Linked DNA regions of Homo sapiens: region 1 is linked to region 2. Evidence: fine-mapped expression QTL. A gene starts in region 2. The other region holds a variant in brackets. All regions are shown on one strand. Distances are between the middles of the regions.

Evidence for each region. PIP is the estimated chance that this variant, and not a neighbour inherited with it, causes the effect. A credible set is the group of variants that fine-mapping cannot tell apart.
Region 1: its variant is the best candidate, but not a certain one, in a credible set for the expression of HTT in whole blood (INTERVAL, PIP 0.52).

Annotation. Positions count from the first base shown.
Region 1 is chr4:3,185,375-3,189,756 of GRCh38, forward strand. HTT (huntingtin) reads left to right here. Exons shown (of 67, transcript NM_001388492.1): 38 at 1,223-1,345; 39 at 2,277-2,512; 40 at 3,577-3,719. Among named protein-coding and RNA genes, the nearest start is that of MSANTD1, 62 kb to the right of the region's middle. The variant G/A (reference allele first, on the strand shown) is at 1,907.
Region 2 is chr4:3,072,450-3,076,831 of GRCh38, forward strand. It overlaps HTT (huntingtin), which reads left to right and starts at 2,232. Exons shown (of 67, transcript NM_001388492.1): 1 at 2,232-2,639. The coding sequence starts at 2,377. It also overlaps HTT-AS. RefSeq lists silencers at 1,288-1,907, 2,058-2,497, 2,608-2,677 and enhancers at 2,838-3,067, 3,078-3,127.

The DNA.
Region 1 (4,382 bases), 110 kb after region 2:
GTCCAGGATGCAGGAATCCTGGAGCTCAAGTCAGTTGTTCCCTTGTTGTAAGATGTGGCCAGTGTTGTGAGCTTCACATCTGTGCCTTGAAAAACACCACATCTGTTTGCAGAGTTGTTTACTATGTATACACACTCAGTAGAAACAAAAATTGGAAACAGTCAGTGCCCACCATCAATAAGTAATGGTTGAACACACTGTGGTATAAGCTTAGACTATTTTAGCTTGGGCTATTTTGCATGATTAAAAATGTTCTGGCCAGGTGTGGTGGCTCATGCCTGTAATCCCAGCACTTTGGGAGGCCAAGGCAGGCAGATTGCTTGAGCTCAGGAGTTTGAGACCAGCCTGGGCAACATGGTGAAACCCTGTCTCTACTAGAAATACAAAAAGTAGCTGGGTGTGGTGGTGTGCGCCTGTAGTCCTGGCTAACTCAGGAGGCTGAGGTGGGAGGATCACTTGAGCCCATTCGTGCGCCACTGCACTCCTGGGGCACAGAGTGAGACTCTGTTAGAAAGAGAGAGAGAGAAAGAAGAGAGAGGGAGGGAGGAAGGAAGGAAGGAAATAAATGGAAGAAATGGAAGGGAGGAAGGGGAGGGAGGAAGGAAGAAAGGAAGTTCAGCCAGTTGCCTTGGGAGTTCTCCATTGCACTGGGTTAAGTGAGAAGAGCAGAGACGTTTATGATTTTTCAAAACAACTAAAACAAAACCTCTGTGGGTGAGGGGGCAAGGATATGGCTATAGGAACATGGGGCAGATTAAGAAAGGGATATACACACACCACTTAGCATTTGTTACAACTGTTGTGGGAGGGATGGAGTGCAGAAAAAGAAAAAAAAAAGTGCACACCATCCCATGTATGTGTATACAAAGGGACGCTTGGAAGACTGGTCCCCAAAATGTTGGTAATGATTGTGTCAGGGTGCTGCAGTGCTAGTTGATTTTTTTTCACACTTTTGTATATTTGAGTCTTTTACAGAAAGCATTTATTATTTATGTAATAAAAATCTAAATGACAAGATTTCTGTTATGGGAAAAATGTAGCTATACAGTGTTGTTGTAAAAATGTTTGCTTGGTTCACCACTGAACTTAAAATGCTTTTAAATGAGGGAAGGTGACGATGAGATGATTATGATGATTTGCCCTTGAGTTACATAGCTGGTGTACAGGAAGCTGTCGTTTCTTTTGGCTTACGTAGAAATGTTTGTGGTGTCTAATTCCACAGATGCACATTGACTCTCATGAAGCCCTTGGAGTGTTAAATACATTATTTGAGATTTTGGCCCCTTCCTCCCTCCGTCCGGTAGACATGCTTTTACGGAGTATGTTCGTCACTCCAAACACAATGGTGAGTCTCTCGCCTGGCTCAGCAGATGAATCTGGACGGCTTGTTCAGGCTCTGATTACTGGGACCACCCCCAGAATGTCTGAGTCAGTCAGTTTGGGTAGGGCTTCTTGAGAGTTTGCTTTTTTTTTTTTTTTTTTTTTTGGTGTGGGGGTGGTGCGGAACAGAGTCTCACTCTGTCGCCCAGGCTGGAGTACAGTGTCATGATCTCGGCTCACTGCAAGCTCTGCCTTCCAGCTTCACACCATTCTCCTGCCTCAGCCTCCCGAGTTGCTGGGACTACAAGCGCCCACCACCACGCCCGGCTAATTTTTTTGTATTTTTAGTAGAGATGGGGTTTCACCGTGTTAGCCAGGATGGTCTTGATCTCCTGACCTCGTGACCCGCCCATCTCAGCCTCCCAAAGTGCTGGGATTACAGGCGTGAGCCACCGCACCCGGCCTTTTTATTTTTTTTGGAGATGGAGCCTTGCTCTGTCACCCAGGCTGGAGTACAGTGGCGCTACCTCGACTCACTGCAACCTCCGCCTCCCGGGTTCAAGCAATTTTCCTGCCTCAGCCTCCC[G/A]AGTAGCTGGGACTACAGGTGCGTGCCACTGTGCCCGGCTAATTTTTTGTATTTTTAGTAGAGACGGGGTTTCACTGTGTTAGCCAGGATGGTCGCGATCTCCTGACCTTGTGATCCGCCCGCCTCGGCCTCCCAAAGTGTTGGGATTACAGGTGGCTCTCGCACCAAGCCAAGAGTTTGCATTTTTAGCAAATTCCCAGGTGAAACTAATGCCTGCTTTTCTGGGAGCACACTTTGGGACTCAGTGATAGAGAGGTTTATTGGTAGGATAGTAAAATAGGAGTTATTTTCTTTCACAAAATTGGCAATTGGGGGAAATTTAATCTTCCTTTTTTCTTCAGCTGTGACTTATGTATTATGTTTATTTTAGGCGTCCGTGAGCACTGTTCAACTGTGGATATCGGGAATTCTGGCCATTTTGAGGGTTCTGATTTCCCAGTCAACTGAAGATATTGTTCTTTCTCGTATTCAGGAGCTCTCCTTCTCTCCGTATTTAATCTCCTGTACAGTAATTAATAGGTTAAGAGATGGGGACAGTACTTCAACGCTAGAAGAACACAGTGAAGGGAAACAAATAAAGAATTTGCCAGAAGAAACATTTTCAAGGTATGCTTTCTATCTGAGCCTATAACTAACCCATGCCTTTTGGGAAGTCACGTGATGTTTCACAGTCAGTAAGTCTGGAATAATACCTGGTCTTGCTTCACTTCTGAGTTGGGTAAAGAAGTCTGTATCAGTGTAATTTTCTAATCCGTCCTGCATTATCTATGGCTCTTGGTTCATACCTGTCTTGAAGTTCTGTCATGTTCTGTCTCTTGTCCTCAGTAGAGATGCTACAGCAGTGGCTCGCCTCAGGCAGGGCAGGGCAGTGGGGTGGCTGTCCTGGGGGCAGGCAGTAGGGGCACGCTGACGTCAGGGAAGTTGAAACCCAAGAGAAGCCAGTAAAAGTGAGTCTCAGATTGTCACCATGTGCTGGCAGTTTTACACGCTGTCAGTAATAAAAGTCTTCTCCCTGCAGGGCAGCCTGCCTCCAATAAATACGTGTAGTATCAAATCCTGTCTTCCCTCATAAATTGTTTGGAAGCTCCCCAAGGACAGTGATGAGGCACTCGTAAGTGCTTGCTGCCTAGATGGGTCCCTCTCCACCTTTGCTAGATTCTGAGCATTCACTGAGTTAGAGCTGCTTCTGCAAATGTGCTGCTTCTGCTAAGTGGCTGTGACTTCATGCAGCCTTCACTTGGTTTGTCATCAGTGGAGATGCCCTGTGTTGTCGAAGGAGATAAGCCCAGTAAGCCTGCTGGGCACCTTTTGGTTTGCAGGTTCAGCAGGCAGCCCATGGCTTTCCCTGTGTCGCATTGAAGCAGCTGGCTAAAATTGATGATACATTAAATTCCTGTGACAGATGATCAGCTTGTATTTGTGTAATGGTGTACAGTTCACAAAGCTTAAAAAAATGCTACCTGCCATTTCATCCTCAGTGAGGAAGGTGATACACAGAGAGACCAAGTGACTGTGTCCACGGCGACGGCGCTCTGCATTTCACTTTAGCGGTTAATGTACTCTACCTATATTTTTACTTTATATTTACCATATATCTTTTCATGTATACTTGGCGTAAGTGCTTTATAGTAGTCACCTAATTCACTGTCATCTTTTTTGTTTCTTGGAAGGTTTCTATTACAACTGGTTGGTATTCTTTTAGAAGACATTGTTACAAAACAGCTGAAGGTGGAAATGAGTGAGCAGCAACATACTTTCTATTGCCAGGAACTAGGCACACTGCTAATGTGTCTGATCCACATCTTCAAGTCTGGTAGGTGAATCACATTAGTCTTCCTGGAGTGTCTCGTTCCCCATTCTGCACTATACACTCTCAGAGTGTAGGAGCTGTGCTGCCCGGTAGAAACTCTGCCTTGCCCAGTGTGCCAGTTGAAAATATTTGTTGCTGTAAGAGTACACCTGATACCATGTGACCCAGCAGTTCCACTCTTGGGTATATACCCAAAAGAATGGAAAGCAGGGTGGTGAAAAGATATTTGCATGCCAGCATTCATAGCAGCATTATTCACGATAGCTAAAATGTGGAACCAACTGAAGTGTCCCTCGATGGATGAATGGATAAGCAAAATCTGGTGTATATTTACAGTGGAATATTATTCAGCCTTAAAAAAAGGACATTCTGACACATGCTACAACATGGGTGACCCTTAAGGACATTATGCTAAATGAAATAAGCCAGTCACAAAAGGACAAATACTATGTGATTCCACTTACATGAGGGACCTGGAGTAGTTAATTCATAGATATAGAAAGTAGAATGGTGGTTGCCAGGGGCTGCAGGGGAGGGGAGTTATTTTTACAAGATGAAGAGAGTTATTCTAGAAATGAATGGTGGTGATGGTTGTATAACATTATGAATGTACTTAATGCTACTGAACTGTACAGTTAAAAATAGTTAAGAGGACCAGGTGTCATG
Region 2 (4,382 bases):
TAGAAGCAGGCCACCAGGTACAGCCCAAGCTCACGGGGAGGGGTCATACAAGGGTGTCAATACCAGGAGGTGAGGGGTGCTGGGGCCATCTTATGAGTCTGCCCACTGAGGTAACTAACAACCTTGAGGCCTGACACAGTGGACAAAGGCCCTTATTAACAGCAGAGAACTGGGAACTTTATTTATTTATTTATTTTTGAGACAGAGTCTCACTCTTGTCACCCAGGCTGGAGTGCAATGGCATGATCTTGGCTCACTGCAACCTCCACCTCCCAGGTTCAAGCAATTCTGCCTCAGCCTCCGGAATAGCTGGGACTACAGGCATGCACCACTACACCCGGCTAATTTTTGTATTTTTAGTAGAGACAGGGTTTCGCCATGTTGGCCAGGCTGGTCTCGAACTCCTGACCTCTGGTGATCTGCCTGCCTTGGCCTCCCAAAGTGCTGGGATTACAGGCGTGAGCCACCGCACCTCGCTGGAACTTAATTTTTTTAGAGACAGTGTCGCTCTATCACCCAAGCTGGAGTGCAGTGGTGCAATCCTAGCTCACTTGCAGCCTCAAATTCCTGGGTTCAGGTGATCCTCCCACATCAGCCTCCCAAGAACTGGGAACTAACAGCTGTTTCTCTGCTGTCCTTCTCAAGAAAAGGGAGGCTACTGCTACCCCACTGGGGACAATGCTGGGTTTCCCTTTAGGACAGGCTCTGAGACAAGGCGGAGGTGCTGTTTGTGGCCACAGAGCAGGGGACTCTGGGTTGCAGGTGTGGCCTGGCTAAAGTAGGCTTTACTGGGCTCCTCTCTGCCTGCATCACCCCCCGGCTGGGCGGTTGTCTCTGAGGCCAACCTTACTCCCTGCTGGGCAGGCTGGACAGCTGCCCTCTCCGTTTGCCCCTCTACCACCCAAAAGGCAGGAGGCTCTGGAGACCAGGACCCTGCCCGCCACGGCCTGTGTCCCAGGCGTGAGGGGGTGCCCCACAGACCTCTGCTGAGCTGCTGCTGAATGACGCCCCTTGGGGGTCCTGCCGGAAGGTCAGAGCAGGGGTGCACTCCCATAAAGAAACGCCCCCAGGTCGGGACTCATTCCTGTGGGCGGCATCTTGTGGCCATAGCTGCTTCTCGCTGCACTAATCACAGTGCCTCTGTGGGCAGCAGGCGCTGACCACCCAGGCCTGCCCCAGACCCTCTCCTCCCTTCCGGGGCGCTGCGCTGGGACCGATGGGGGGCGCCAGGCCTGTGGACACCGCCCTGCAGGGGCCTCTCCAGCTCACTGGGGGTGGGGTGGGGGTCACACTTGGGGTCCTCAGGTCGTGCCGACCACGCGCATTCTCTGCGCTCTGCGCAGGAGCTCGCCCACCCTCTCCCCGTGCAGAGAGCCCCGCAGCTGGCTCCCCGCAGGGCTGTCCGGGTGAGTATGGCTCTGGCCACGGGCCAGTGTGGCGGGAGGGCAAACCCCAAGGCCACCTCGGCTCAGAGTCCACGGCCGGCTGTCGCCCCGCTCCAGGCGTCGGCGGGGGATCCTTTCCGCATGGGCCTGCGCCCGCGCTCGGCGCCCCCTCCACGGCCCCGCCCCGTCCATGGCCCCGTCCTTCATGGGCGAGCCCCTCCATGGCCCTGCCCCTCCGCGCCCCACCCCTCCCTCGCCCCACCTCTCACCTTCCTGCCCCGCCCCCAGCCTCCCCACCCCTCACCGGCCAGTCCCCTCCCCTATCCCGCTCCGCCCCTCAGCCGCCCCGCCCCTCAGCCGGCCTGCCTAATGTCCCCGTCCCCAGCATCGCCCCGCCCCGCCCCCGTCTCGCCCCGCCCCTCAGGCGGCCTCCCTGCTGTGCCCCGCCCCGGCCTCGCCACGCCCCTACCTCACCACGCCCCCCGCATCGCCACGCCCCCCGCATCGCCACGCCTCCCTTACCATGCAGTCCCGCCCCGTCCCTTCCTCGTCCCGCCTCGCCGCGACACTTCACACACAGCTTCGCCTCACCCCATTACAGTCTCACCACGCCCCGTCCCCTCTCCGTTGAGCCCCGCGCCTTCGCCCGGGTGGGGCGCTGCGCTGTCAGCGGCCTTGCTGTGTGAGGCAGAACCTGCGGGGGCAGGGGCGGGCTGGTTCCCTGGCCAGCCATTGGCAGAGTCCGCAGGCTAGGGCTGTCAATCATGCTGGCCGGCGTGGCCCCGCCTCCGCCGGCGCGGCCCCGCCTCCGCCGGCGCAGCGTCTGGGACGCAAGGCGCCGTGGGGGCTGCCGGGACGGGTCCAAGATGGACGGCCGCTCAGGTTCTGCTTTTACCTGCGGCCCAGAGCCCCATTCATTGCCCCGGTGCTGAGCGGCGCCGCGAGTCGGCCCGAGGCCTCCGGGGACTGCCGTGCCGGGCGGGAGACCGCCATGGCGACCCTGGAAAAGCTGATGAAGGCCTTCGAGTCCCTCAAGTCCTTCCAGCAGCAGCAGCAGCAGCAGCAGCAGCAGCAGCAGCAGCAGCAGCAGCAGCAGCAGCAACAGCCGCCACCGCCGCCGCCGCCGCCGCCGCCTCCTCAGCTTCCTCAGCCGCCGCCGCAGGCACAGCCGCTGCTGCCTCAGCCGCAGCCGCCCCCGCCGCCGCCCCCGCCGCCACCCGGCCCGGCTGTGGCTGAGGAGCCGCTGCACCGACCGTGAGTTTGGGCCCGCTGCAGCTCCCTGTCCCGGCGGGTCCCAGGCTACGGCGGGGATGGCGGTAACCCTGCAGCCTGCGGGCCGGCGACACGAACCCCCGGCCCCGCAGAGACAGAGTGACCCAGCAACCCAGAGCCCATGAGGGACACCCGCCCCCTCCTGGGGCGAGGCCTTCCCCCACTTCAGCCCCGCTCCCTCACTTGGGTCTTCCCTTGTCCTCTCGCGAGGGGAGGCAGAGCCTTGTTGGGGCCTGTCCTGAATTCACCGAGGGGAGTCACGGCCTCAGCCCTCTCGCCCTTCGCAGGATGCGAAGAGTTGGGGCGAGAACTTGTTTCTTTTTATTTGCGAGAAACCAGGGCGGGGGTTCTTTTAACTGCGTTGTGAAGAGAACTTGGAGGAGCCGAGATTTGCTCAGTGCCACTTCCCTCTTCTAGTCTGAGAGGGAAGAGGGCTGGGGGCGCGGGACACTTCGAGAGGAGGCGGGGTTTGGAGCTGGAGAGATGTGGGGGCAGTGGATGACATAATGCTTTTAGGACGCCTCGGCGGGAGTGGCGGGGCAGGGGGGGGGCGGGGAGTGAGGGCGCGTCCAATGGGAGATTTCTTTTCCTAGTGGCACTTAAAACAGCCTGAGATTTGAGGCTCTTCCTACATTGTCAGGACATTTCATTTAGTTCATGATCACGGTGGTAGTAACACGATTTTAAGCACCACCTAAGAGATCTGCTCATCTAAGCCTAAGTTGGTCTGCAGGCGTTTGAATGAGTTGTGGTTGCCAAGTAAAGTGGTGAACTTACGTGGTGATTAATGAAATTATCTTAAATATTAGGAAGAGTTGATTGAAGTTTTTTGCCTATGTGTGTTGGGAATAAAACCAACACGTTGCTGATGGGGAGGTTAATTGCCGAGGGATGAATGAGGTGTACATTTTACCAGTATTCCAGTCAGGCTTGCCAGAATACGGGGGGTCCGCAGACTCCGTGGGCATCTCAGATGTGCCAGTGAAAGGGTTTCTGTTTGCTTCATTGCTGACAGCTTGTTACTTTTTGGAAGCTAGGGGTTTCTGTTGCTTGTTCTTGGGGAGAATTTTTGAAACAGGAAAAGAGAGACCATTAAAACATCTAGCGGAACCCCAGGACTTTCCCTGGAAGTCTGTGTGTCGAGTGTACAGTAGGAGTTAGGAAGTACTCTGGTGCAGTTCAGGCCTTTCTCTTACCTCTCAGTATTCTATTTCCGATCTGGATGTGTCCCAGATGGCATTTGGTAAGAATATCTCTGTTAAGACTGATTAATTTTTAGTAATATTTCTTGTTCTTTGTTTCTGTTATGATCCTTGTCTCGTCTTCAAAGTTTAATTAGAAAATGATTCGGAGAGCAGTGTTAGCTTATTTGTTGGAATAAAATTTAGGAATAAATTATTCTAAAGGATGGAAAAACTTTTTGGATATTTGGAGAAATTTTAAAACAATTTGGCTTATCTCTTCAGTAAGTAATTTCTCATCCAGAAATTTACTGTAGTGCTTTTCTAGGAGGTAGGTGTCATAAAAGTTCACACATTGCATGTATCTTGTGTAAACACTAAACAGGGCTCCTGATGGGAAGGAAGACCTTTCTGCTGGGCTGCTTCAGACACTTGATCATTCTAAAAATATGCCTTCTCTTTCTTATGCTGATTTGACAGAACCTGCATTTGCTTATCTTCAAAATATGGGTATCAAGAAATTTCCTTTGCTGCCTTGACAAAG